5 separate regions of the Homo sapiens genome follow, and regions 1, 2, 3 and 5 are each linked to region 4. Evidence: fine-mapped expression QTL. A gene starts in region 4. Each other region holds a variant in brackets. All regions are shown on one strand. Distances are between the middles of the regions. Region 1 overlaps ARID1A (AT-rich interaction domain 1A). Region 2 overlaps ARID1A (AT-rich interaction domain 1A). Region 3 holds the start of ARID1A (AT-rich interaction domain 1A). Region 4 holds the start of ZDHHC18 (zDHHC palmitoyltransferase 18). Region 5 overlaps ZDHHC18 (zDHHC palmitoyltransferase 18).

Region 1 (5,694 bases), 120 kb after region 4:
AGTTAGACATCAAAGGAGAAAATGAAAAAGGAAAAAAGAAAAAGCCAAGAACAGAGAAAATAAAGCTTAAAAGTGATAGAGTTTAAAACACACATGCACACACAAACATAAGATTCCTTACTAAAGTATTCATCTGTACATACAAATATGAAATCACAGATCAAACTGTAGTCTCCTCCTGGAAACCACTGCCTTCATTGCAGCTAGGTCCCAGTGATCACAGCTACGCTTCTCAGGCAGGAGGAAAAAGAGGCCTGGTAGCAGAATACTTGTTTTTAATGGGAAGGACAGAGAAACCACATAAGGTGTTCAGAAAGTCCAAATGAATTAGAACACTGGTTCTTCACTTGGTCTTCAAACTGTTAATATTTATCACCTGACCACTTCTGTAACTCCCACATCTGTGCCAAGCACAATCCTTATTCATTAAGTTATACAACTGGAGACAGGTCTTGGCTCAAATGTCCACCCCTCAGAGAGTCCTCATTCACTGCAGAGATGAGGTGGCTTGTTCAGGAATCTACTTAGAGGGTTTATTTTTATTTGAGACAGGGTCTTGCTCTGTTGCCCAGGCTGTATGTAGTCCAATAGCACAATCAGGTCTCACTGCAGCCTCCAATAAACTCCTGGGCTCAAGTGATCCTCCTGCCTCAGCCTCTCAAGTAACTGGGACAATAGGTGCATGCCACCAGGCCCAGCTAATTTAAAAAAAATTTTTTTTAAGAGAGACAAGGTCTTGCTATGTTGCCAAGGCTGGTCTCGAACTCCTGGGCTCAAGCAATCTTCTCATCTCAGCCTCATAAAGCACGGGGATTACAAGTGTGAGCCACTGCTCTCGGCCTACTTACAGGGTTTATTTACTAAAACTTCACAAGAAGAGACACAAGGAAAGGAATTCACAGCAAAACTCAGACTGGCCACTAAGAAGTAGGGGGTGAGGGAGAGAGGTCAATAAAGGCTTACTGTGAGAACACCAAATCACCCAACGCCCTGTTCTCAGATCAGACAGCCATCACAGGCAAAAGGGACATCATGGCATTTAATTAGTGCTCCAACACTGACCTTTAAGTGGCATTTTCAAGAATCACTTTCTTGGAAAAGTGTACTGTATTGGCCATACTTGGAGACCACCACAGTCAAGATCCTATTTTTTTTTCTGTATATAGACAGGGTCTTGCTGTGTCACCTAGGCTGGAGTGCAGTGGTGCCATCATGGCTCACTGCAGCCTCAGCCTTCCTTGCTCAAGTGATCCTCCCATCTCAGCCCCCACGTAGCTGAGACTACAGGCGCGCATCACCATGCCTGGCTGATTTTTTTGTTTTTGTAGAGATAGGGTTTTGCCATGTTGCTCAGGCTGGTCTCGAACTCCTGGGCTCAAGCAATCCGCCCAGCTCAGCATCCCAAAGTGCTTGGATTACAGGCATGAGCCACCATGCCCTGCCAGTCAAGATCTTAAAATACCTTTCCCACCTTCATCAAAATCCCAGGACCACAGGTCCAGATTATCTTCATGCCATATTGCCGAAGAACTAAGAGAAAGAGAAATGGAAGGCAGGGAGCCCCCAAGTCCTATAAACAAGCAGACGTGTTTTGTGACTAGAACTTATCACTGCACTAGTAAAGGTCCATCTCAAAAGTATTTTCTTTCTTCTCCTGTTACTGGCTGAATGTTTATGAAACCCTGAAATTAATGTTGAAGCCCTAACCTCCAACGTTACGGTATTATTAATAGGAGGTGGGGCCTTTGGGAGGTAATTAGGGTTAGATTAAGTCATGAGGGTGTGCCCCCATGATGGGCTTAGTGCCCTTATAAGAGCAAGAGCCGGGGGCGCTGGCTCACGTCTGTAATCCCAACACTTTGGGAGGCTGAGGTGGACAAATGGCTTGAGGTCAGGAGTTTGAGACTTGCATGGCCAACATGGTGAAATCTCGTCTCTACTAAAAAATATATATAAATAAATAAATAAAATTAGCCGGGCGTGGTGGCGTGGACCTGTAATCCCAGCTACGAGAGGCTGAGGCAGGAAAATTGCTTGAACCCAGGAGGCGGAGGTTGCAATGAGCTGAGATTGCACCACTGCACTCCAGCCTGGGTGACAAAGCGAGACTCTGTCTCAAAAAAAAAAAAGAGCAAGAGACATAAGAGGCTAAGAGGGCATTAATTGGGGTGGTAGACCGGCAAGAAGACAGAAGACAGTTGCCTACATGCCAGGAAAATGACTGTCACCAAGAACCCGATCTGCCAGCATTTTGATCTTGGACTTCTCACCCTCCAGGACTTCAAGTAGTAAATGTTTGTTGTTTAAGCCACCTCGTCTATGGTATTTTGTGACAGCAGTCCAAGCAAACTAACACACTCCCCTAGCCTCAAGCATTTTAACCTTTTCTCCATTCATTAATACTTTTTTCATAGGAGGGCACATAGACATAAAACATCAATCTATGGTATAATTTAGAAGCAGCCCCTCAGGTAATCTGGATATACTCTGCAGCCCAGTTGAGTGTAAATGTATAAATCTAGTAGTTCTCAAACTTCAGTGTTCATCAGAATGGCCTAGAGGACTTGTTAGAACATATTGACAGAGTTTTGGATTCGATAGGACTGGCCAAGGGTCTGTGCTTCTTAACAGGACCTAGTAATGCTGATGCTGGTGGCTAGGGACCACACTGAGAACCACTGCACTAATCCACTTCTCAAGCTGGAACAACAAGTG[G/CTG]TGTGTGTGTGTGTGTGTGTGTGTGTGTGTGTGTATGTATTATTTTATTTTTTGAGATGGCATCTCGCTCTGTCGCCCAGGCTGGAGTGCAATGGTGTGATCTCGGCTCACTGCAACCTCTGCCTCCCAGGTTCAAGCGTGATCTCGGCTCACTGCAACCTCTGCCTCCCAGGTTCAAGCGATTCTCCTGCCTCAACCTCCCAAGTAGCTGGGACTACAGGCATCCGCCACCACGCCTAGCTAATTTTTGTACTTTTAATAGAGACGGGGTTTCACCATGTTGGCCAGGATGGTCTCGATCTCTTGACCTTGTGATCCACCCGCCTTGGCCTCCCAAAGTGCTGGGATGGCAGGCATGAGCCACCGCACCCGGCCTGTGTGTTTTAATGCACTGATAGGCCGGGTGCGGTGGCTCACATCTGTCATCCCAGCACTTTGGGAGGCCCAGGTGGGTGGATTACCTGAGGTCAGGAGTTCCAGACCAGCCTGGCCAACGTGGTGAAACCCCGTCTCTACTAAAAATACAAAAATTAGCCAGGCGTGGTGGCACACGCCTGTAATCCCAGCTACTCGGGAGGCTGAGGCAGGAGAATTGCTTGAGCCCAGGAGGCGGAGGTTGCAGTGAGCTAGATCATGCCACTGCACTTCAGCCTGGCCGACAGAGCGAGATTCTGTCTCCAAAAAAAAAAAAAAGTAAGCAAGCTAGCCCTGATAGCTGGCATAGTGACATGTGCTTGTAGCTCAGCTACTTGGGAGGCTGAGGAAGGAAGATTGCTTGAGGTCAGGAGTTTGAGAGTGGGCTATGATTGTGCCTGTGGATAGCCACTGCACTCCAGCCTGGGAAACAGAGAAAGACCCTGTCTCTAAACAAATTTTAGTTTAAAAAAAAAAAAAAAAAAAAAGCATTACAGTAACTCAGATGTAGCTAAAAACTAGGGAAAATTTTGAATTCGGTAAAGACCAATACTAGCTTTAACCACTCAATTCTATCTCTCCTGAATTGAGAAGCAGGGCCAGTGGGAACCTGGGGTCCTGGGTCGGGGGTGCTGTTGAGAACTTCCATGGTAGTGCTGCAATCTTCCTACATCACCCTTCTGGCCTCCTGGCTGGAGCAGGGTGGTAGCATTCCAGGGGTGCTGGGTGCAGGGGAGGAGAATGTGAGGTAGATTGGTGGATGCACAGGAGGAAGGTGGGAATAGTGGTATCAACTCTCCTGGAGGCTTGCTTCTGAAAAGGACGGCTGGAGAGTGGGAGAGATAGTTGTGGGATTGACCAATCAGGAGTCATGTTAGAATTGTATTTGATAAACGAATAGTACTTTCACATATCTAATATTTACCATAGCTTCAAGGTAGATATTTTTCCTCATTATATAGTTGAGAATACAGATTCAGAGAAGTGACTTACCTAAAGTCATACTGCCCTAAGAGAACTTTAAACCTAGGTTTTAGAGATGACTCTGCTATGAAACTTTGTATGTGGCACTCAACTTTATGTGTTCATTTCCCCCAAGTGGCAAATTAAGACAATAATCCGCTGGGCGCGGTGGCTCACACCTGTAATCCCAGCACTTTGGGAGGCCGAAGCGGGCGGATCACGAGATCAGCAGACCGAGACCATCCTGGCTAACATGGTGAAGCCCCATCTCTACTAAAAATACAAAAAAATTAGCCGGGCGTGGTGGCGGGCACCTGTAGTCCCAGCTACTCGGGAGGCTGAGGCAGGAGAATGGCGTGAACCCAGGAGACGGAGCTTGCAGTGGGCCAAGATCGCGCCACTGCACTCCAGCCTGGGCGACAGAGCAAAGACTCCATCTCAAAAGAAAAAAAAAGACAATAATCCCTGCCTCTTCAGCAAGTGCTCCAAGTTTCTGGAAAAGTAATATCACTCTGCATATACTTTCATAATTCAAGTCACTTTCACTCAGATCAAAGTGAAAGACTCTGGCTGGGTGCGGTGGCTCGCACCTGTAATCCCAGCACTTTGGGAGGCCGAGGCAGGTGGATCACAAGGTCAGGAGTTCAGGACCAGCCTGACCAACACAGTGAAACCCCATCTCTACTAAAAATACAAAAAATTACCTGGGCGTGGTGGTGGGCACCTGTAATCCCAGCTACTCAGGAGGCTGAGGCAGAAGAATCACTTGAACCCAGGAGGCAGAGGTTACAGTGAGCCGAGATCACGCCACTGCAATCCAGCCTGGGCGACAGTGCAAGACTCCGTCTCAAAAAAAAAAAAAAAAAAAAAAAAAAAAAAAAAAAAGTGAAGGACTGTATCTTAAAGGCTGAATCTCACTCTCAACCCCAAAAGATCCCTCTTGAGAAAGAGAGGACCGGGGACCAGAGGACCAGATGCTGCCAGTTCTCACCAATGGAATCACAAGGCAGCTATAAACCAAGTGCCATGGCCATTCATCGGAAATCCAAAACAACAAAACCCTAAGTGGAAGGGATGGAAGGGAATGACAGGACAGAGCTCTAGGCACGATGTCAAATTGTTAACTAATGGCTTTTCAGTCTTTCACCCCATTTAAGAGTTTCAGGCTATTGTAAAAATAATGTCCTAAACAATCTTGGTGCCTGAGTAATTTATTTTGGAGAAGCAAAGTTAGTATTTTAGATTGTAATACCTTTGAAGAGTCAGACAAACCTTGTCTACCTTGTCAGACAAACCCAACTCTACCTTTTACCAGCTATTTTCCCTAGGGCAAATTTCTTATCTTACTCTATTTCCTCATTTGTAAAAGAGGAAGATTAATAATAGAACCCACCTCCTATACAGTTTTGAAGATTAAATTAGGAAATTCATCAAGAGGACTAAGCATAATGCTTAGCACATAATAAGTACTCAAATGCATGGTGGCCATCATTTGAAAGTCAGGATCCTTGCCAGGCACAGTGGCTCACGCCTGTAATCCCAGCACTTTGGGAGGTCAAAGCCGGCGGATCACCTGAGGTCAGGAGTTCGAGACTAGCCTAG
Region 2 (5,694 bases), 66 kb after region 4:
ACCTCATGATCTGCCCGCCTTGGCCTCCCAAAGTGCTAGGATTACAGGCATGAGCCGCCACGCCCGGCCAAAAACCTGTCTTTTATAAAGCTCATTACATATGATGTTTAGTCACGTGAAATTTCAGACCCATCTAAGGTATGTAAGAATTAACACTTCATACACACACACCCATTTTCCCCCCCTGGTTTAGGTCCAGAAGCATCTCAATAATCTGAGTGGGTCTATAATACATTTTCTTGCACTGACACCCTCTCTGCTTCCCAGGCCTTACCTGTTTTGGATAGAGTTGGCAGCAACATGCATGGCGACAGCAGTTTCTTGGGTTTTCCGGTTCATGCCCCCTGGTGGGGGACACATCCCTGACCCAACCTGAGGTGGCATATTGGCCATGTTAGGGCCATAAGGCCGGTTGCCCATGGAGGCGTGACTCATCCTCCCTGGAGGGAGTGTGCCATAAGGTGGGATGCCAGGCTGTCCATGCATTTGACCTCCGGCACCCATGGGGTTTATGCCTCCAGCCATGCCTGCACTGGGGTAGTTGGCATTGGGCAAGGCATTATAGTTTGGCTGCCTGGGGTAGCCACCTGGGAGGGGAGGAAGACAAGACTTGGTTAGTCACTCACTAGCAACTCACTAATATCTCTCAACTCTAGAACACCAAACAATGTCATTCAATATTTTGGTTAGGAAAGAGATCAACTTCATGGTAGCCTTTATCGCCATGAGAAAAAGGGGGGGATTCCAGAAGCATGTAAAGGCAGGTCAGAGCAAGGCTGGCTTTGCTGCCACACAGGCATTTCAACTTCCAGAAGAAGATAACTTCCTTTCTATTTCCATGCTCTGTGTAAGATTCTCAACTTTTGATCAGCCTAGGGCTGCAATTTTGAGCAAAGATCTATTCCATTATGACTTATTCACTAAAAATAATTAATAAAAAAATAATAACCAAGAGCTACCATGTATAAATTGTCTGTGCTCAATGGTGGAGTAAACACCTAATCTCCATTTTTATAAATGAAACAGAGGCTCAGTGAAATTGAAAGACTTTCTCATGGTGACAGAATAAGTGGAGACAAATGGAATCTTGCCTTGCCCTACTTCAGGGCCTGGGCTGGGTGGATTAAAGGCAAAGGACAGCCCTTCTCTCACAAGGTTACAAGCTAGATGGCAACATATCAGACAAGGAACTGTTTTCTCCTCTCACCCGTATCTACTCCTAACTGGGTAGTATACTGACCTTGTGGGCCATACTGACCCCCCTGGGGACCATAGCTCCCCATGGAGTTCTGCTGGTAGGAGCCCATGCCTGTGTGTATCTGTCCTCCGGAAGGCTGACGCGGAGATAAGGCTGAGCCGGGCTGGGGGGAACTGTACTGGGGCATCTGGGGGTTCCTCTGCATATAACCTATTTGTGGGTAGCATCCATATAGTTATTAGCTTTATACAATGCGAACAAATGCTCTCCATCCTTATCCTGGGACTTTACCATCTACATTTTCTTTAGCAGCCACTTGCATGGAGTCTCTATCTGATTTTCTATATAGTGGTGTGTCATTTTAGGCACCTTCAGAGTGACATGAACCATTAACCAGGGCATGCCAGCTGTTTCTACTAAATGGAGGTTTGAAAAGACAAAGAACAATGACAAAAACCAAAATGAATGACTTGATGAGTGAAGACCGAACATTGAGTCTTCAGCAACTGCCGACCAAATGAGGCAAAATGTAAGGGGGCAACCATCAAAACACAGACAAGTACTGTGAAATGGAGACATTAACACGGCCAAGCCCACTCTAACTTCACAATTTGCTGCTGGGTCTCAGCACAAAGAAGTAATAAGTGTTTGAGATTATATATCTGCTAATTACCCTGATCTGATCACTATACGTTACTTCTATTGAAACATCATTATGTACCCCATAAATGAGTACAATTATTACGTCAACTTTTAAAGAATATAAAAACAATTTGCTGCAGGGATTGTCCTAAGCTTCATGGTCAAACAGCTCTCCAAAAGCTACTGCATAGGGCACTCAAATGTCTGCCCTAGCTCCCTGCCCCTCCCCAACACCCAGGCTCTCACCTCGATCTTGGGCAATGCTTGATTGGTTCATGGAAGGATGCATGATGCTGTCCGACTGGCCACTGGGTGGCCGAGGTGGCATCTGGTTGCCTGCTCCAGACAAAGAACAACATAAGCATATCATGGCTAAGCCTGGGAATTCTAACTAGGAAGTTAATTCAGAGCTAGAAATGGCTCATGAAGAGGCCAAGTACCTCCCAGTATCACACACAAAGAGATCCAGCCAACAGGTTCCAATCTCCTTCTCCAAATGCTAAGGGGAAACTATGCAGGCATGAGCCAGAGATGCTTTCTCTGCCAGTGGAAGACTAGGGCTCCTTAATATTACTGGGGGCAGTCACCTTTCCCTCTCCCTAAAGCCCAGCACTTGAGGGTACCTGGCACTGCAGCAGGCGAGAGTGGTCCTGAGCGAGACTGAGCAACACTGGCGGGAGAGCCAACAGGGGACGGGGAAGGGCCTCGGATGCCAGGCAGGTGAGGGGAGGTATGAGGAGAGAAAGGAGACTGAGCTGGATTACTCTGCTCTCCTTGGCTGCTGGAAATCCCTGATGTGCTCACTCCAGGACTCAGAGCTCCTTCTGTCCCCATGGGGAGGTCATCTATTGAACCAGATAGATCCTAGAACATATATATAAGAACATGGATTAGTAATATTAGGCAGAAAGATTCTACTTTCAATAATCCTACTACTTGCTTAGCATTTTCCTTAAACAACCAAGAGCAAATACATCACACACGTTCTTTAGTCATGATACTATTTTTATTAAAAAAAAAA[A/T]TTTTTTTTTTTGAGACAGTGTTTCACTCGTTGCCCAGGCTGGAGTGCAATGGCACGTCTCGGCTCATCGCAACCTCTGACTCCTGGGTTCAAGCAATTCTCCTGCCTCAGCCTCCCGAGTGGCTGGGATTACAGGCAAGCACCACCACGCCCGGCTAAATTTTTGTATTTTTAGTAGAGACGGGTTTTCTCCATGTTGGTCAGGCTGGTCTTGAACTCCCGACCTCAGGTGATCCACCCTCCTTGGCCTCCCAAAGTGCTGGGATTATAGGCGTGAGCCACCGCGCCCGGCCCTAGTCATCATACTATAACTTACATATGGCAAACTCTGTTAAGGACCAGGTGGAATATATATTAGACCTTTGTGGGCCATAAAGCCTCCTTCAAAACTACTCAACTCTGACACTATAGTGCAACAGTAGTCAGACAATATACAAACAATGGTGTGACTGAGTTTTGCTGACTCCTATTCTATCCCCTCAGAAGCAGATCTAGCACTTTTGTCTTCTTTCCCAGTCATAACTTCTACAGTCATAAGAAAGCAACTATTTCAGTGAGGCTTTAGTTCTTTTCTAATAGCAAAACTTTACAAAATGCTGCCAGGATGGCACCAGGAGCTACAAGAGAATGTTAACAAGTTTGGGAAACATTTATAGATCCCCTCTCCTTCTATTATATATTACAATGATGATTATTACTATAGATTATCACAGCCTCCATTTGCCAAGGACTCACTCCAAGTCACCATACTTTGCAACATAAGGGGTAGGAGGTAAGAAAGAGAGACATTGGATGAGAAAGACAATTTCTTAACTGCCAAGAAGGTCTGGGACTACACTCCTAACACCTGGTCTATAACAGTAATCAACAAATGTTTGCCAATTGAACAAATTCTGTTTTTTTCCCAGCTTTTATGTTTTTCAGTGAGAACTTGGTATTTGTTTGTAGGCTTTGCTTGTCTTCAGTTAATCAATAAAGAGTTCACTCTAGGTCAACAAACTCCAGTATTAGCAAACAGGAGCTCAATATGAAAAATATTCACCCCAGAAAATGTACCCTAACTCCATCCCCTGCCCCATGTTCATTCTCTAGCAACATTACTTCAGGCTGGGAACTAACTGTAATTGAAGAAAGGATGAAAACCCTGATACTTAAATGGTAAATAAAGAGTTCTCTTAAAGAAACACACTGGGCCACGCGCAGTGGCTCATGCCTGTAGTCCCAGCCTTTTGGGAGGCCGAGGCGGGCAGATCACTTGAGCCCAGGAGTTCGAGACCAGCCTGGGCAACGTGGCAAAAACCCTGTCTCTACTAAAAATACCCCCAAAAATAAGCCAGGTGTGGTGGTGTGCAGCTGTAGTCCCAGCTACTTGGGAGGCTGAGGTGGGAGAATCACTTAAGCCCAGGAGGAGGAGGCTGTAGTGAGCCGAGATTGTACCACTGCACTCCAGCATAGGTAACGGAGCAAAACACCATCTCAAAAACAAACAAACAAACACACAAAAACAAAACCGAAAACACCACACATCTCAAGGAGGAGGAGATCCAAGTTGGTTTGATTTGAGTCTATTCCTGCTCACACAAACAAGCTCACCCGGGAAAGATCGGCTGAAAGTGACTTTGACCCTAAGATCTGACAGTTAACACTGGAGGTCAGAGGGCAGCTTTTAGGCTCTCCTTCAAGTATCCAAGCTGGGTGGACCTTCCACAAACCACTTGGGTACCTCATTAGGCTGGGAGCATTTCTGCTGAGCTCTTGGAGACAAAGTTTGCTCTGAAGGCAGGTAGGTAGGTGTGCATTTGTGCCTGTGTCCAGCTTTCCATGTTAGCTGAGAAGTCAGAAAATGCTAGCTTTCTTGTTGGTAAGAAGTAGGCCAGGTATGCCATAGCATACTTTAAAAATGCAATGAGAATTCGTTCCAGCATAGAATGATTTCAAGAGGCCAACCACAAGGTAACAGCAAAGGACATCCTCCTTTCTCGAAGGACTAAAGTACCTGGAGCTATGAAGAGCCCCATGTTAATCCCAAGATAGAGGGATTACATCCTTGGTTCTTCTTCTTCTTTTTTTTTTTTTTTTGAGACAGGGTCTCACTCTGTTACCCCAGGCTGCAGTACATTGGCATGATGCCAGCTCCCTACAGCCTCAACCTGCCCAACTCAAGTGATCCTCTTACCTCAGCCTCCTGAGTAGCTGGGACTACAGGCACGCACCACCACATCTGGCTCTGTATGTGTGTGTACAGGCAGGCGCCACCATGTCTGGCTGTGTTTGTGTGTGTGTAGAGAAGGGATTCTGCCATGTTGCCCAGGGTGGTCTCAAACTCTTGGGCTCAATCCTCCCACATTGGCCTCCCAAACTCCTGATATGATAAGCATGAGTCACTGTGCCCAGCCCCATCCCTGTTTTGATGGCTAAGTTATACCATGGACATCTAGCCTCTGAGCCAAGAACAAACTAAAAGAGGCAGCAAGATGACAAGGAGAGCCACTGTAAGTAGAAAGGGTCTCAAGAAGCACTCGTTAGGCCCTACAGTCTATATAGCAAATTCCACAGCTCAATGCTGTTTTAGGGACCAGAAGGTTCCCTCACCCACTCCTTCCTACAGTCTCCATTCCTTATCAAACTGCCAGCTTCTGGTAATAAGAACTTTCCTGCTTACAGGAAAAAGAAGTGTATTTCAGAACAGAATAGGAATCAGGGATCCATCCATCAGACGAGAACTTGGTTCAGTTCAAATCGCTTTGAAAAATTATATGTTGGCCAGGCGCAGTAGCTCATGTCCGTAATCCCAGCACTTTAGGAGGCCGAGGTAGGCGGATTACGAGGTCAG
Region 3 (5,694 bases), 130 kb after region 4:
TTATGAGCTCATCAGGATTGTTGTACCATTACATCAGAGGCAATTATAAATGGCCAAGAGCAGGAGATGGGGAGCCAATCAGATCACAGATAGGATGTCAACCTAAGACCAACTGTCTCCTGGCTTTGACAGAAGGATTTTACCTCCATAATTCAAATCCCAAACCAAAGCAATCTGCACTTACTACTCCAATCACTCAGCTGTTTACCAGCACTTCCAGGGAGAAGCCCAGGCCACTGGGCCGGCGGAGCCTAAGACAGGAGATGGACCGGGCTGCCCTAGGTGAACCGCAGCCGGCCTCTAGCAGCTCCCAAGCAGTCCCCTGCCCTCCCCTCGAGGTCCCCTCGAGCTCTAGGGGCCCTCTTTGAAAGCACAGATGGGGGGCGGCCCAGAGGAAGGCCGGGGGACGGAGAGGAGCGGCAGGTGAGCAAAGAAACGTTCATTCAACTCCTGGGCTCCTACCACTGCCTACACTCCTAACCTGAGCCCCCAGCGCCCCCTCACCCCCTCACCCCCGGCCAGGCCCTTCCCCGCACACTCTGCCCCGCACCCCCATCAAGACCCCTGGAGTTCGAAGGGACCAGGGGAGAGGAAAAAGAGGAGCAGACACCTCTGGAAAAACCCAACACAAAGGCTGAAGGAGGGAAGGAGAGGAAGGCAGACAGGCAGCCATTTTAAGAGAGAAGAGCCAGACAATGGCAGCTCCCCAGCAGTGGGGGCCCGGGACTGAGGGGAGCCCAAGGCTGTGGCCCGCTCACCGCAGCCGCCACCCACCCCCAGGACCACGCTCGCCCCAGCCCCCTCCCCACTCAGCTGTGTACCTGAGGGGTCCGGGCGAGCGGCTGCCCCCCGCCGCCGCTGCTCCCGGGGCTCATGGGCGCGTGGTGGCTCCTTTGTTGGGCCCCTCCCGAGGCGGCCGCCGCCGCAGCTGCCGCCGCCGCAGCCCCCCAACACTGCGAGGCCATGTCCGCCGGGCCCTTGCCGGCGCCCCCGTCCTGGGGCCCGCCACTGTAGTCGCCCCCGGGGTAGCCCTGGTAGCCCCGGGCCGAGCTGGGCGACGTGAGCAGTTGGTTGAGGGTGGGGGTGGCGGTGGGCTGGGGAGTTCCCCCGCCGGCCGCGGAGGGGCCGCCTCCCCCCATGGCCCCGAAGCGCTGCTGAGCGAAGGACGAAGACGACGAGGAGGCGGAGGCGCTGGAGGAGGGAGGCGGCTTGGAGCCGGCAGCCGCCGCCGCGCCGGAGCCCGGAGTGCCACCTCTCGGGGAGCTCAGCGCGTAGGCCGGGGCGGGCGGGGGGTAGGCGCTGCGGTTGGGGTAGTAGGAGTTGTACTGGTGGTTGGGGAAGCCGTGGTCGTGAGAGTTCTGCTGGGGCCCCGCGTAGGGCTCCAGGCCCCCGCCGCCGCCGCTCTGCAGCGCTGCCAGGCCAGGGCTTTGTTGTCCGCCATGTTGTTGGTGGAAGACGGCGGCCGCGGCGGCGGCGACGGCAGACGGGCTCCGGCCGTAGGGTTGCCCGAAGCCGTAGGCTGGGGGCGGCAAGGCGGCCGCGGCTGAGTGAGGAGGCGCCCCCACCCCATCGCTGCTGCCGCCACCGCCGCCGCCGGGCGGCTCCGTGAGGTTATTGTTCAGGGCGGGCCTAGGGCCCGCGTTCCCGTTCGAGTTCTTCAGGTCCGGCTCCGCGCCGGGCCCGCCGCCGCTGCCGGCTCCGCCGCCGCCGCCACCCCCATTGCTCTCGGCCCCGTCCTGCAGCTCCTTTCCCAGCGGCTGCGGCGGCCCCACGGCGGGGCCCTCGCTTTCCTGCCCGGCGGCTGCCTTCATTTCCCCGCGCTCGGCCGCTGCCGCCGCCGCCGCCTCGCCCCCCGCCTCCTCCCGCTGCTGCTGCTCGGCTTTCTTCAGCTCCGAGGGCGGCGGCGGCGGCGGGTTGCCCAGGCTGCTGGCGGCGGCGGGGGCGACCTGCGCGGCCATGATCCCCGCTGTCTCGTCCGCGGAGAGACCCGGCCCTGTCTTCGTCTTCTCCCCCCCTCCCACCCCGCCCCGGGGCCCAGTCCCCCGGGCTGCCCTCCCCACCCGCCCGGGCGGGCCTCGCGGGGCTCCGCTGCTGCGCTGCGCTCGCTCCTCTCCCCCCCGCCCCGCCGGCTCAGGCTCCGGGCTGGCGGCGGCGGAGGAGGAGGAGGCGGCGGCGGCGGCCGAGGCGCCGGCGGCTCAGCTGCTCCCGGCTCTGTAGGCTCGGGACCCGGCTCTCCCGGCTCATTCCCCCCAAGCCCTTGCCTGGGAATGAGGGGGGCGGTGGAGGCTCCGCTCCCCAGGGCCTGGCCCCGCTGTGACTCTCCGCTTTCTGCTGCCGGAGAAAGGAGGAGGGAGGGAGGGAGGGAGGCGAGGGGGAGGGGGCGGGGAGGGAGGGAGGGAGCGGGGGGAGGGGGACCCGGGACGGGCGGGCTGGAGGGCGCGCGGCAGCAGCCGGGGCGCCGGGAGCCAGAGTCAGAGCGCGGGCCGAGCCCGGCGCCCTGCCTCCCCTCGCCAGCTGCGGCTTGGGTCGAGGCTGCTGCGCGGCAGCGGGCGGGCGAGCAAGCGGTCGGCCGGACTGAGCGGCTAGAGCGCCCCACTCTCCTCCGAGTCCCCCTCACTCCGACACGAGGCTCAGCACTGCCATTTTACCCAGCGCCGTCGCGGCCGCCTGGCAAACCCGGAGTGGAGAGCGGAGCGGGCGCAGGCCGTGGAACGGACTCGCTCCCTTCCCTTCACAAAGGAGGAGGGGAGAGAACAAGCCGCGGCGGCGGCAGGCCCTCAGCCGCTTTCGCTAGGCAGCGCCGCCGCCGAAGGCTTCGGAGAAAACCCGGCCCGGAGCCCGCGCATCTCTGGAGCCTGCGCCGCCTCCCTCCCGGCGTCCCTATCCAGGTCTGTCCCCTCCCGGCCGTACCGAGGGGAGCGGGCAGCGTGAACTTTACCCGCGGCTGCAAAATTGGCCAGAGCCTGAGACCGCGGCCGCCTCGGCCCAGCCCTGACCCCCTGGCAGCGGGCCCGGTCCGTTGGCTGCTGCTTAGCACCTCTACAGCACTTTTCGTCTTCAAAGCCTTCTACGGACCCCGCTAAAGACCCAACCTTTTTTACCCTCTTTGCAAGCCCGAAAGAATGACTGATCATTGTTCAGACGATTCGTTTCCCACTCGCCTGCCCT[C/T]ATTAGCCGGTCCTTACAAGGCTCTGGGGGCATGAGGTCCGGATTATCCCCATTTTACAGAATTGAAAGAGAGGGGAGGGAACTGCCTGTCACTTAAAGTCAGAGGGCAGAGGAGGGTGACTTTAAAAAGAAGTGGAGTCACCAAAGCTGCCTTCGGTCTACTTGCCTTTAAAAAAAAAAAAATCAAGTTGTGAGCACATTCAACAATGGGATCAGAATATCAAAATGGATTTGAAGTCAAAACTGATCATCTCACCACTAACTTAAAATGGAGGCCACTGAAGTTGCTTTAGGAGCATAGAACAGTTACCCAGCAGGAAAACCTAAACACCGTTTCTCACTCCCTCTTAAGAAAACTTAGCCTACCATGACAAGTAGCCCCAGTCTCCAAAGACAGTACCTTCTAATACTGAAAACCCACAGAAGAGGCTCCAGGGACTGCAGGAACCTGAGTGTTCAAACCATTACAGAAGAGAGATGCAGAAAATGGAAACCATTTTCTCCTTGAAGAAAAGGCACAGTCCAACAAGTCACTTAGAAAATGGATGCTTGTCAGATTTGTTTTCTATCCTGTAGCGTAAAGATTGTTTAAAGTTTACCATTACATTCTAAGAGACCCCGATTGAGCTGGAGTTGGGTAGAAGGCCAGGTTTATCTGAAAAGATCGACATACACAGAAAGCTCCAGTGTTCTCCTGATCTACAGGCCCCACCAAATCCCAGCAGCAGCCTTTTCTTCCTCAGGCTGACTTGGAATGTTCTGATATGACAGGCTACAAAAGCCAGAGGGGATTCCAGCTCCTCACCAGACCCAAGGCTGCCTTGGGAAAGGCCCAGGCCAGTGTTCCTAGACACCAGGATCTCTTTTCCCCCTCAGATTTTGTAAAGGGAGACTTCATGGCCACAGGAGCATTATCTTAGATTATGCAGGACCCGGGAGTGCTGGCAATGTCCCTGGTCACTATGAATAATTCCAAAGCCTGAACTCATTTCTCTCCCCAAGAAAACTTACTGCATCCTACACCAGAAAGGCAAAACCTTCCTGTTAATCTAAGAGTGATGAGATTTAAAAAAAAAAAAAATCCCACAGTTTTATTCTTCTCCCCTCCCCCGGCCTCAAGCCAAGAACCAAACCAGCCTACCAAGAAGATCCGACTGACTGGTATGGGCCAGTGCCCTCTTTTCACTCACAGTCCTCAGGGGCAACAACTCTCCCCGGTGCATTAGGTCCTAGAAACCAAATTATAGGCTGCCTCATAAATAGAGCTTGGCTATTTAATCAACTGCCCCTGAGCTGGCAAACAGTCCTGAGTCCTGCACACAAATGAGGATTTTTTTACATGCCATTACTCTGCCATTTTCCTTAGAGCTGGGGTGTAATGGGAAACCTGGAGCCCAGTGAAAATCTGGAAGCTAGAATGGATTTCTCTCCAAAGAAAGCCCTCATCCCCTTTCTTCAATGGCTGTGAAATATGGAAAGCGCCAAAAATCTCCTTCCCTACACGTGGGCAAGCTGTTTTGAAAACAGTCACCATTTTTCTCTAGCAATAAGGTAAAGTGCACAAAAATCTATCCACCTGGGTTGGAGGAGATAATGTGGAATTTCTCTACTTTTTTTTTTTTTTAATTCACTAGGGTTCTCTTCCACTTTTACTTTTAGAGCCCCACACCACGATCCCAGGAAATGTTGGGCTGAGGGAACTTTTTTAGAAACTGGCCCATCAGCTTTCCCTAGGGGCAGTGGCAACGGGAAAGCGGGGGAGGGGAGGAGCTGGGCACGTGGCTGGCCCGAGCAGCGAGACCCCGGCTGGGGGCAGTGGGTCCTCCCTTCGGTGGAGTTTTTTCCCCCACGGCCCCTGCCTTTTAACCCCACACCCAGGCAGCTCAGGAATCCCGGCGCAGATTGGAGAACTAGGACTAGGACAGCGCTACCCTCGCGAAAGCACCTCGGCCAACAGCCTGATGGCAAATATGGACTGAATCGTTGACATGGAAACCGGACTAAAGTCTCGCTAGCTCTCCCTCACAGGAGAGTTCTTATCGCCGTCCCCGACCGCACGGCACTTAGCAAACGCGGACTGGATTTGAGGCCTGGAGGATCAGGCGGAGTTTCTGGGCGTATTAACTCCAGCGGCAGAGCAGCCAAGGAAGGGGGCAGGGCTGCCAGGACAAACCGGCTGAAAATGGCAGAGGATGTGCTCCCATTTTATCCGGCTGCACAGCGTGCATGGATTGGGCCCGAGGACAAGGGAACAACCTATTAAAATCCAGAGAGTCAACTGCAAAATGTGGAACCGAGGCCTGGAGGGTTTGCTAGGAGAGGGAAACGTTTGCAGGGAAGACAGCCCTTCCTTTCTCGCAATTTGCTTCCCCTAAATGTCTGAAATACAAAACTCAACAAACAAACAGAAGATCGGGCTCGGCTCCTTCCTCCACCCAATCCTTGTGGGAGAAGTCGTCTTAAGCCCAGGGACCCTAGCGAGGGTTTGCTTAGATTCCTAACTAAGGCGTGGAGAATCGCTGGAGC
Region 4 (5,694 bases):
CTCCCCAAACCCAGAAGTCCTTGCTTTCTCCCTCGCTGGGGACAAAACAGTCACCAGTGAAGATACCCGGTCAACCCAGAGAAGGTCCTGCTTCTAGTTCAGAAGTTAGGCCAGATATCACACTGCAGGGTCATGTGGGTCAACCACGGCAAGTACTGCTTCCTCCTGCCTCGGCTGCAGCCCTGGGTGTGGGGACTGAGAGGGCAGCCCAGGGGATACTAGAAAAGGCATTTCCAAAACACTCATGTGGCCAGCCCAGGGAAGTGGATCTGAAACTCAGCCCAGAGCTGAGCTCTGGGCCCCCCAGAGCTTCTGCTTGTAAATCATCCCTGAACTTTTTATCCACCCTACTCAAAAAAAAGGGCAGAGTGTGTGGTTAAAGGGTAAAGGGAGAAGCTAATTTATAGGAAGTCTTCACCTTGCTTCAAGGGGAAACCCAAAGTTGCAGATACATGATCTGGCAGCTAGAAAGGGTACCTGGGGGCGGGTGTCTCTATGATAGCCTTACCATGGCCACATGCCCTTGGGAAGTGTTTTTTGATAAAGACAACACAAGTACTAATAGCAGCCAACATAGTGTGCTTGTTACTGGGCTAAAAGCTTGCATGTGTGACCTCATGCCACCCTCAGGACAACCTTACGGGGTGGGTACTATTATAAATCCCATTTTACTGATGAGGAAACTGGGGCACTGAGGGGGTGAAGTGACTGCCCTGAGGTCACGCAATTAGTGGGTGGTGGAGCTGGGATTTGAACCAGGTCTGTTAGAGTTCTTAACTACACTGTATAATTAAGAGGAACAACCACAAAGGATGGGGAGTTGGGAGGGGACAGCAGGGCTTATGAAGCAAGGGTGGGTGGGTGGGCGTGTGAGTGTGTGTGCAAGGAATCACAGTGCAGGTGGCTCAGAGGTGGGTGGAAAACTTCTAATACAAATATATGACCCTCCATCCATAAAATGGAGATTATGTGTGGGCCAATCCTGGGTCACCGGGGGATATGAAGAGGACAAAAACCTAGGGGGGCAAATATGACCTGTCACACGAAAGCACTCCGAAGTCTTTCCTGAAAAACAACAAGGCACCGCAGCTGTTGCTGATGTGGAACAGGCCAGAGGGACGTTCCAGAATGTTGAGCAGGGAAAGAAAGCCAGGTGGTCAGCAGGGGGGCCAGGGGCCTGGGAGCCGGCTGGGTGGAGGCGGGCGGGATCTGAGGGAAGGACAGGAAGCTCTGGAGAACCTAAGGAAGGTTCTGGAGAAGGAAAGGGGGCCCGAGAGGCCCAAAGATTTTGAGAAAAGATGCCTTGGGGCCTAGGGTGTGCGTGGCTGAGGGGAAGCAAAAGCGGGGTTGGTGTCTGAGACTAGAGAAAAGGAGGGGACCCTGGAGGGACCCGGAGAGGGCAGCGAGGATGACTAGGATGTTTATGGTGGGTGTGCACAGCCAAAGGACACACAAGATCTAGAAGTGGTCAGGAAGGGATACAAGGGTCAGAAAGAACTTGGGGGGTTGGCAAGAGATGGTCCAGGGATGGGTGAGCAGGAGGGGCCTGTTCAAGAAGCCCTGGGGCAGGTTCTGAGAGGGCAGCGAGGATGGGGGCCGTGGAGGGGCATGGAGGCTGGTGTTCCTGGCAGTGGCAGGCAGACAGGTGCCAGGGTGGGGTCAGGGAGAATGGAGGGGCTGGGAGGGTGGAGGGCACCAGCGCGGATGGGGTACCCAAATGGACCAAGGAGGATGGGGCATCTGGCGGGGATGGGGGTGCGCAGGGGCCAGGGGGGCAGACAAGAGGCCCGAGGAGGATCCCAAAGGGGCGGGGAGGATGAGGACCAGGGAGGCGAAGGGGAAGGCACGGAGTGCCCAGCAGGGATTGGGAAGGTGGGGTGCGCGGCAGGGGGCTGGGAGGGGGCGCCGAGGCAGCGGAACTCACTCAAAGACGAAGAAGAGGCCGGTGGTGGTGAGGATGAGCAGCAGCGTGAGCGCGAAGACGCCGCCGTGGCCGGCCAGCATGAGGCGGCCGCCGCAGTAGAAGCGATTGCGACCCGGGAACACCTCCCACTTGCGCCGTGGGCGGCGGCCGAGGCTCCCGCTCCCGCTGCCGCTGCCGCTGCCGCTGCTGCTCCAGCGCGGCGGGGCGGGGGCGGCGGGCGGCGCGGGCCCGGGGCCCGGAGTCGGGGACGCGGCGGGGCCGGGACGGCGCGCCCCCGGGGAGGCGGGCAGCGGGGCGGCCCCGGGGCTGATCTGCTGGTACTCGCAGTCCTTCATGCAGCCAGCCGCGGGCCTCGGCTCCGCGCCCCGCGGGCCGGCCGGGCCACTCCGGGACCGGGCCGAGCAGCGGAGGTGGCAGCGGCGGCGCGCGCGGCGCTCGCTCGCTCACTCACTGGGGCGGCCCCGCCATCGCTCCGCCCCCGGCCCGCCGCCACCGCCCGCCGCGGCCTCCCGCCGCAGCGCCCCCTCCGCCTGGGCCCGGGATGGCGCTTGGCCGGAGGCCCAGCTCTGACCCGCGGCGGGGCCCCGCAGGTCCCCGGCCCTCCCAGTCTCCCTTTTCCCTTCTGCACAAAGAGGGGGCCAGCAGACGCGCACTCGAGGGCTCTTTCTGTTCTGCAAGCAAGCCGTTTGTTGGGCGTCCACTGTGTACCAGGCACGGTGCCAAACGCCGAGATTCAGGTGGTGGACTTCGTGATCTACTTCTGGCAGTCTGTAATTCCCCAGGCTTCGCCCATCTCTGAGGGTCGAACTGACAGGCATTTGCAGAGGCAGGCAGGCGCGGGGAGGTGGGGCACACGATTTGCTTTGAAAGCCAGGACCTCTTCTACCTTGAAGTCCAGAGTGCCCACTGGAGGTGTGTGGCACACCCTCTGGCCTCGTTCACCAAGTTCTGTGTCCTGGGCCCAGGCCCAGATTTTCCTAGGTAGCACATAATGTAGAGGGGTCATGCCTGAGGGCCCCAGTGTTTTTTCAGGAATTCTGGGAGTATTCATTTTCTACTGCTGTGTAACAAGTTACCACAAATTTAAGGCTTAAAACAAACATTATCGGCCGGGCGCGGTGTCTCACGCCTGTAATCCCAGCACTTTGGGAGGCCGAGGTGGGTGGATCACAAGGTCGAGAGAGACCATCCTGGCCAATATGGTGAAACCCCGTCTCTACTAAAAATAAAAAATTAGCTGGGCATGGTGGCACGGCATCTATAGTCCCAGCTACTCGGGAGGCTGAGGCAGGAGAATTGCTTGAACCCAGGAGGTGGAGGTTGCAGTGAGCCGAGATTGTGCCATTGCACCCGGCCTGGTGACAGAGCAAGACTCCGTCTCAAAAAAAACAAAAAACAAACGTTATCTAACAGGTTCCAGGTCAGGAGCCAGAGAACAGCTTAGCTGGGTCCTCTGCTTAGTCTCACAAGGCTGCAATCAGGCTGCATTCTCATCTGGAGACTCAGCCAGGGAAGAATCCACTTGCAAGCCCATTTGGGTTATTGGCAGAATTAACTTCCTTGCGACTGTTTAACTGAAGAGGGCCTGGGATTTTTGCTGGGTGACTGTATAACTGAGGAGGGCCTGGGATTTTTGCTGGGTGTCTGCTGGAGGCCTCTCTCAGGATCCAAAAGCCACCTGCAGTTCCTAGAGATTATCACATTTCCTTGCCATGCAGGTTTCTCCTACATAGCCACTTAGTTTCTTGAAACTGACAATGAGGGTCTCTAGCTCCAGACTATGATGATAGAGTTTTATATAACTTACTATATATGTGACAGAGTGGCATCCCATCATCATTGCCATCTCCTATGGTTAAAAGCAAAGCACAGGAGCCATCTGCACTCAAGAAAAGGGAATCACACAAGGCGTAAATACCAGGAGGCAGGAATCATTGGGGGTCAGCTTAGGGTATGTCTGTCACACTGTGGTTACTGTAAAACCTAAGGAAAAGTGCAAGGAAAAAAAGAACTGGAGACTAGGAGAAAGTAAAAAAGGAAGTAAAAATATACAATGGGGAGGAGTAGGAAGCCGACAACAGTGACCTTAAGGATCAATAATTGATATATATGCCAAAGGCTGCTCAGCCGTGCCTTTGGTGCCAAAGGCTCTCAATATGATGAGCCCCATCTTGAGCAAACCACATGGTGAGCTTCCTCCCTTTTTGCTCCTTGGCTGTGGAACAAAGTCACAAAACTAGACATACTGGTTCCAGTACAGATTCCTGTTGTCCCACCTTAACTGGGTCCTCTTGCAACCTGAAACCTTTTCTTTTTTCTCGTCACTTTACAGAAACCAAAGCAATCCTACTGGATTTTCAGTTTACCTCCTCTCTATCTCATAATTTCTCTTTATTTGCATCTGTCCTTTCTTCTTTTTTAGAAGATGTGGGCCTCCTTCTGTCCATGGCCAACCCTCCACTCATATCCTTATTTTATTTTATTTTTTATTTTTTTGAGATGGAGTTTCGCTCTTGTCACCCAGGCTGGAGTGCAATGGCATGACCTCGGCTCACTGCAACCTCTGCCTCCTGGGTTCAAGTGATTCTCCTGCCTCAGCCTCCCAAGTAGCTGGGATTACAGGCATGTGCCATCATGCCCGGCTAATTTTTGTATTTTTAATAGAGACGGGGTTTCACCATGTTGGCCAGGTTGGTCTCGAACTCCTGACCTCAGATGATCCGCCTGCCTCGGCCTCCCAAAGGGTTGAGATTACAGGTGTGAGCCACTGCACCTGGCCTCTTTTTTTTTTTTTTTTAAGTAAGGCTGATGGAACTCCATTTTATTTATTTATTTAAGCCCAATAGAACTCCAAACTCATGTCCTATCTCTCTTCCTGTTCATTAATACCGCAAACACATGCTCAATTCTACATCAATTAAAAAGCAAGGCTGGGCGCAGTGCTCACATCTATAATGTCAGCATTTTGGGAGGCCAAGGTGGGAGGATTGCTTGAACCCAGGAGTTCAAGACCAGCCTCAGCAACATTGCGAGATGCCACCTCTACAAAAATAATTAAAAATTAGCTGGACATGGTGGCATGCACCTGTAGTTCCAGCTACTTGGAAGGCTGTGGTGGGAGGTTTGCCTGAGTCCAGGAAGTCAAGGCTGCAGTGAGCTGTGATTACGCCACTGCACTCCAGCCTGGTGACAGAGCAAGACCCTGTCTAAAAAAAAAAAAAAAAAAAAAAGCCAGGCGTGGTGGCTCACATCCCAGCACTTTGGGAAGCCGAGGCGGGTGGATCACAAGGTCAGAAGTTCGAGAACAGCCTGGCCAACATGGTGAAACCTCATCTCTACTAAAAAAATACAAAAAATTAGCTGGGCATGGTGGCATGCGCCTGTAATCCCAGCTACTCGGGAGGCTGAGGCAGGAGAATTGCTTGAACCTGGGAGGCGGAGGTTGCAGTGACCCGAGATCATGCCATTGCACTCCAGCCTAGGCGACAGAGCAAGACTTCGTCTCGAGAAAAAAAGAAAAGAAAACCCTAAAAAACCCAATGGAGCTTCCCATGGTTGGCTACCTTCTCACCTTAGTTCAGATTTATCTTTCTCATTATCATTAGGATCATATTAAAGAGTTGCTACCAGGCAGGGCATGGTGGCACATGCCTGCCATCCCAGCACTTTGGGAAGCTGAGGCAGGCAGCTGGCTTCAGCTCAGGAGTTCGAGATCAGCCTGGGCATCATGGCAAAATCCCTCATCCCCTATGATTTCCTAACTTTTTACA
Region 5 (5,694 bases), 29 kb before region 4:
GGAGGCTGGCCCAGATCAACTCTAAGCCCTCTACTGGCTATGACATTCTCTAATTTTAGGGTTTCTCCAAGATCTCATCCTCCCACCGCTGTATTCATTCCTTGGGTAGTGCAGATGGCTCAGAGCTCGGGGCAGAGATCAGGTTCCGATCTGGGATTTGCTGCTTTGCCAGCTGGGTGACCTTGGGCAGCTCCTGTTTCTTCCTTGAGTCTCAGTTCCCTCATCTGTAAAAAGGCTGACATCATCCTCCTCACAGGTTAAGATGAGAAAATGGGCCCGGGACTCGGCAAGCCCTTGCTGAACGGTAGCGGTAGCTATTTTTTTAGCCCATAGTACAGTGTATGCACATGTGTGTATCTTGATGTAGTGCAGCAACTGGGGAGAGAGAAGTTTCCATGAGATCGTTACCCTGGGCTGGGCTCAGTTCATGGGTATGGCAGTCCCAAACTGGAGTTAAACCCTCTGTCTCAGCCTGCACTGGGACCTATCAGAATCCAGAGGTCAGCTAAGGCTGGGTGGTGTCTGGAATTGAGACCAAGAGTTCTGGAGGGGCAGAGTGAAAAGGATGTCAGCCACTTTTCCTGTGTCCCTCCTGGCTTCGTTGTGCTTGTAAATCTCCAGAGCAGCACTGGCCAGCTGGAAGAAAGCTGGGAGCGAGGGGGAGCCATATGTTCCACACGCCCACTGCAGGTCCCATCCCTGGGCCCCAAAGTAAAGGCGCCACCAGACAGCCAATGGTATGGCAAGAAGAGGGGAATCTTTATTTTGGTTAAAAAAAAAAAAGGTACAGGATAGCAGACAAGCAGCCCCCAGCCCTGGGCTCAGCTGATTTTCCTTGGCTCAGCTCTTTCCTTTAGTCCCCTGAAGTGTATGGGGCTGTGCACGGCTAGCTTGGTCCCTCAGTGCCTAGAGCAAAGGAGGCACGCACCCTCCCTACATCCTACCTACTCTGGTGGAGGGTTGGGGGTGGGAGGTGGACAGGCCGTGGGAACAGTATCAAGCCAGTTGTGCTTAGAACAGTCACCAAACTTGTTCAGCAGCGTCATCCACCATCAACACCCCAGACAGCTCCTGAGGAAACCTGCTGGGCTTGACTATGGCTATGCCTGATCTGAGGGGGTGGAGGGGCAGGCTCTAAGGCCAGATTCCTAGTCTTGACACCTCACAAATCCGGGAAGGGGAAGTCAGTGGAGGAGAGAGGGAGCATATCAGCGTAGAGTCACATTATTGTGCTGATGGCTGCGTTATGGCTTTCTACACTCTGGCCGGCATGGAGCGGGAATGGGGCAAAGAGGCCAGCCCCTGCCCCCTATGGGGGTCCTAGAGAGCACACAGGCCGGGCAGGCTGGGGGGCAGACCCTGTAGGCACAGATGGTGGCAGATGGGCCACAGGTTAGGCAGGTGGAGGTGCCGGGTGCCTGGCTCCCCCCAGGCCATTCCTGGAGAGGCAGAGAGCAGCGGTCCTCAGGAGGTCCTTAAGCCCCCGCACACACTGGAGATCCCCGGCAGGACAGCAAAGAAGGAGAAGAGAGAGGGTTAGCAGGCCTGGGAGGAGGGAGGCGGCCTGCAGGGGCCCCGGTGGTGGGGAGAGGTGCTGCCACAGCACCTGCCTCTGCCCGAGAGAAGGGCCAAGGCTTAGGCAGCAGGCAATGAAGCAGGAGAGAAAACGGGCGGGTGAGAGAAAGCTCAGCGGGGACAGAAAGCCAGGACATAAGAGTGTTAGTGACCGGTGGCCCCTGCATACCAGGACCCCACCAGCACAGACCCAAGCACCTCAGGGCAGGTTCGCCATCCTCTCCCCAGCCTCACCCTCCACCTCCTCTTCCAGCTGGAGAGCTGCTCTGCGAGAAGCTACTTCCTCAGTCCACAATGGGGCTGGGCTTTTAGCCTTGCCCTATATCCCGATCCTTCTGCTTAGCGGGGAGTCCCTGGAGACCCTACCACCACCAGCACACACACCGCACCACACACCAGACAGATGGACGGGCTCCATGGGGTTGGCGAGGCATGCGATGAGGATGAGATGGTGTGTGAGGGGAGCGGGCAGTGCTGGCCGACAGGGAAGAAACGGTCTTACCAGCTAACCCTCTGCAAAGAGGCCTGTTAGCTCCCCTCAGGCTGTGCAGGAGATGGCAAAATCCTGACAGGTGTCCTCCTGAGGGAGATACCAGAGAGGTGGGCCAGTGTTATGAGTTGTCTGGCTGGGCCCTGGTGCCCAGGTTGGAGGTGGTAGCCAGGGAAGCTCCGGCTCTCAAACTGGAATCTACTGTCTCAAACATTTTCTTAGCTGGGCACTCATTGGGGATCGGAGTGGAAAGGCAGTAGGGAAGAAGAATTTGGGGGTCTCCAAGCCCCTGAGGCAGGGGAAGGTGGAGGGGACAAAGAGGGGACAGGATGGCCTCTTTTCACGTGCCCATGGGGGCTCAGCCGCAGCCCTCTCTGCTCTTCCTCCAGCGGACAGAGCTCCAGCCAGGTGAGGGAAAATGTAGCCAGATCACTGGGCTGCCTGCCTTCTCACAGTCTCCCCAGGAAAGAACCAAATTTGTCTGAAAGAACAGAGGGCTCCCAGTTGGGGCCTCAGCAAAGGAAAAGCAAACAAAAACCAAACCAAAGCAAAGCAACTCTTATAAACTGAAGTTTTATTACAAGCAGGAACAAAGAATACTGGCTTAAATAAAAGGTAGGTGGGAGCCCCCTCCTCTAGCCAGCTTCTTCCTCACCTCCCAGGGCCACTGCAGTGATGGCCCAGGGCCCTGAGGCTGGGGTGAAGCTGTTTCTCCCAGAGGGGACCCTCTGTGGCTGCCATTCCCAGCTGTCTGTGACCACTAGCCTCTGGAGTGAGAAGGGCAAGATCTGGGGACTTCCTATGTCACTTTCCAAGGGCTTCAGCCCACTTGAAGGGCCAAGGAGGGGGATGGTGGAACAATATCTATTTTGATAAGAAACTACAGCTCCCAGCAGAGGAGAAACATCCTCTGAGTTTCCGGCCCAGACTCAGGCCAACCTTCACTTGCCTCTTGGCCCACCCTGCACCTTCTTCCTTTTCTCTGGATGGAGGTCCCCGTTTGGCAGAAACACCTTGTCTTCCAGCTCCTGGCACTGGGTCCCATATTCAGAGCTCAGAGGAGGGGGTGTGGCTTGTAGGATGGCAGCCGCTCCCCAGAGCCATCACCCCACCCACCACGCCCAGGCTCAGCCTGTCTGGGCAGGTCCCAGCTGGAAGCCTCACCTGGGGGCTGGTGGGTAGGGCTGGGGGTAGAGTGGCAGAGTCCCCAGACACTGGCTGTCTGAAGTCCATAGAAGAAGGAAAGATAGGAGGCTGGGCTGAGCCCCAGTGGGAGCCCAGGGTTTTCTCGTGACCAGTGCACGTGCCCCCTGTCCCCTTGGCTCAGAGTGCTTCTGA[C/T]ACTCAAAGGGGATGGGGCAGGGGGCAGCCCAGGGGATATGGGAGCCAGCCACATTCATACAGGGCACACATGAACACACACACACATGCACACACACTCTCACTCATTCCAGCCAGAAGGTCTCTTGGAATAAACTTATTAAAACCAACCAGCCTTCTGATAACCCTTCACCTGGCACTACACAGACAGTAATGTGGCTGACATTTTCTCCTTCCATTTAAAAAAGACTATGTAGAAAAGAGGTCTATAAAATTGTGCAAAATACCCAGCATTAATAAACCCGTTTCAAGTATTGCCAGCATGAGCATAACCCACCCATGCCGGGACCTGGCTTGGGAGAGAAGTGGAGGGGCAGGCTGGGATCCCTTAAAGAGCTCTCCATGGGCAGGGGAAGGACCAGGCTCCCACTTCCACTGTGCTGCCCAGGAACTGCACAGGAGCTGAGGCTGTGGGTGCCTGGCTGGCTGATTTACCTTTGTCTGATACAGGCTGCCCCCACCCACCACCAACCCTGCCTTCTCTACTGGAGCCCCAACTCAATCCTATTGGCCAACTCCATAAAAAAGGGGGGAAAACCCCACCAAAAATCCCACAGAATAAAGGGAAATTATCACCAAGGGAATGAAGGAGCCCACAGACCAAAGCAGCCCATGGAGGCTTCCTCTCCACAGCCAGCTATCCAGAGCTGGCCACTCCTCAGTCCTGCTTCACCCTGAGGACCCTGGCTCAGCAAGGCCCAAGCAGTTCCCCCACCTGGGAGGCCTCACGCTCAGTTCACAGCCTCACTCACACAGGGCTCGCCCGGCACAGGCAAGGACTTGGTGTGGTCCCCTGGGTAGCCTCCAGAGGCTCTGGTCTCTCCTGGCACTGATCAGCTGGGGTACCTAGGGCCCAAGGCTGTGGGAACCTGGGTTTGGGGAGCAGAGGGCACAGCCACGGAACAGTTCAGGGAAAGCCACGCAGGATGGGAAATAAATATGAAAAGACTTGAGTCTTTGGCAGTTCTGCTTCCCTTGGATGGAATAGGGAGGGTCCCGGCAGGTGAGTGCGGAGGGTCAGACAGGCCAGCAGGTGGCAAGTACTGAGCCGTGGTCAGGGGTGGCCTCCTACCATGCTGGCATCAGGCTTGGCTCTGCAGGCTGGCTCATCGCTTCTGATGGGTGAGGGCAACACGGTGTCGGACTGCACAAATCCCCTCCGGTCAATTAGGCTTCCAAAACACAAGGGAGACACATGAGGGCTCTGCCCAACACTGAGGCTCTAGGCCAGGGGTTGGACGGCAGAGTCTATCTCAGCCAAGGAAAGGCCCAGGCTGAGAAAGGCTGAGGAAAGGAGAGCTGCTGCCCATCTGGGGGCCCAAGACTCTTACCTCTGGCAGGCCTCTCTCTGCCCTCTGGCCACCTGGCTTTTGGCCACAGAATTTATTCACTATTAATTCCAACTGGCCCACCTGTCTGGCTGCCAAGAAGCCAGGCTGCAGGTGAGGGAGGAAAGCAAGGATGAATAGGTATTTGATGACTATGAAATTCCTATGTTCCCTTCCCCTCTAGGCAGGCTGGGTGACAGGGATACTGGGTGGGGTAGGTGACATGACTGTGTGGGAATGACTTGTCTTAGCAGTACCCACAGCAATGTAATCCCCGTTCTGGAACTCTGGTGCCCCCTGGTGTCAGGATGAACAGGGAGTGACCCAGCAGGGCTGAGTCCCCAGGGTTCCTACTGCCAGGAGAGGATGGAGTCGCCACCCAGTCCAGGCAGTGGGCAACCGGAAGGGCAGTGTCATTCAAACATGGCTGAAACAGTCATGGTGGCTACCCCCGGGGAGTAGAATTACATGTCATATCCAATGCTCCTCTGTTTTACGTTTTGTACTTAATTTTTTTTTTCTACAATGAGCACGTGATTAAATAACAATTCTCCATGGAATTCCGTCACATGACAAATGCCCTCCAGGGGGTAGTGGACGGAGGGCATCTAGGGTGTAGGGGGAGGTCGGCTGATATCCAGGAACACTTTGATCACTGGCCAGGCATGGCCCTGTTACCCCTCTTCCGCACCCCGCTCACTTACCTGGGAGGTAGGGGGCCACAGAGCACAGCACAGCAGTTGGTGATAATACTTTTATGGCTGTAGGGGTTGACAGAGGCCTCACCGCCCCTCTTGCTGGACCACGAGCCTTTGATCTGCAAGCAGGAAGGAGGCCTAGGTCAAGTACCTCCTTTTGCTTCACTTTTCTAGGAGGCAGGTCTAGAGGCTGGGGACAACTGGACAATTCCGAAACCAATTCTGG

What was found. PIP is the estimated chance that this variant, and not a neighbour inherited with it, causes the effect.
Region 1: its variant is fine-mapped to the expression of ZDHHC18 in whole blood (INTERVAL, PIP 0.92).
Region 2: its variant is fine-mapped to the expression of ZDHHC18 in blood mononuclear cells (TOPMed, PIP above 0.99).
Region 3: its variant is fine-mapped to the expression of ZDHHC18 in whole blood (TOPMed, PIP above 0.99).
Region 5: its variant is fine-mapped to the expression of ZDHHC18 in whole blood (INTERVAL, PIP 0.95).

Annotation. Positions count from the first base shown.
Region 1 is chr1:26,707,550-26,713,243 of GRCh38, reverse strand. All of the region lies in intron 1 of ARID1A (AT-rich interaction domain 1A), which reads right to left. Among named protein-coding and RNA genes, the nearest start is that of ARID1A, 14 kb to the right of the region's middle. RefSeq lists an enhancer at 5,329-5,694. The variant G/CTG (reference allele first, on the strand shown) is at 2,716.
Region 2 is chr1:26,757,866-26,763,559 of GRCh38, reverse strand. It overlaps ARID1A (AT-rich interaction domain 1A), which reads right to left. Exons shown (of 20, transcript NM_006015.6): 5 at 2,464-2,704; 6 at 2,087-2,176; 7 at 1,241-1,408; 8 at 275-587. Among named protein-coding and RNA genes, the nearest start is that of PIGV, 27 kb to the left of the region's middle. The variant A/T (reference allele first, on the strand shown) is at 2,862.
Region 3 is chr1:26,692,668-26,698,361 of GRCh38, reverse strand. ARID1A (AT-rich interaction domain 1A) reads right to left here and starts at 2,347. Exons shown (of 20, transcript NM_006015.6): 1 at 822-2,347. The coding sequence starts at 1,958. It overlaps LOC124900417 (translation initiation factor IF-2-like), which reads left to right and starts at 1,957. Exons shown (of 2, transcript XM_047439473.1): 1 at 1,957-2,145; 2 at 2,397-5,694. The coding sequence starts at 1,957. The coding sequence ends at 3,083. It overlaps LOC101928728 (a long non-coding RNA gene), which reads left to right and starts at 4,231. Exons shown (of 1, transcript NR_135804.1): 1 at 4,231-5,694. RefSeq lists silencers at 734-1,333, 1,384-1,713, 2,084-2,243, 2,334-2,663 and enhancers at 1,642-2,577, 2,578-3,514, 5,347-5,446, 5,163-5,677. The variant C/T (reference allele first, on the strand shown) is at 3,169.
Region 4 is chr1:26,823,370-26,829,063 of GRCh38, reverse strand. ZDHHC18 (zDHHC palmitoyltransferase 18) reads right to left here and starts at 2,376. Exons shown (of 8, transcript NM_032283.3): 1 at 1,925-2,376. The coding sequence starts at 2,259. RefSeq lists silencers at 2,109-2,318, 2,329-2,478, 2,442-2,594.
Region 5 is chr1:26,852,646-26,858,339 of GRCh38, reverse strand. It overlaps ZDHHC18 (zDHHC palmitoyltransferase 18), which reads right to left. Exons shown (of 8, transcript NM_032283.3): 7 at 5,475-5,587; 8 at 736-4,614. The coding sequence ends at 4,497. Among named protein-coding and RNA genes, the nearest start is that of SFN, 7.7 kb to the left of the region's middle. RefSeq lists silencers at 3,188-3,360, 4,933-4,992 and an enhancer at 4,607-5,108. The variant C/T (reference allele first, on the strand shown) is at 3,404.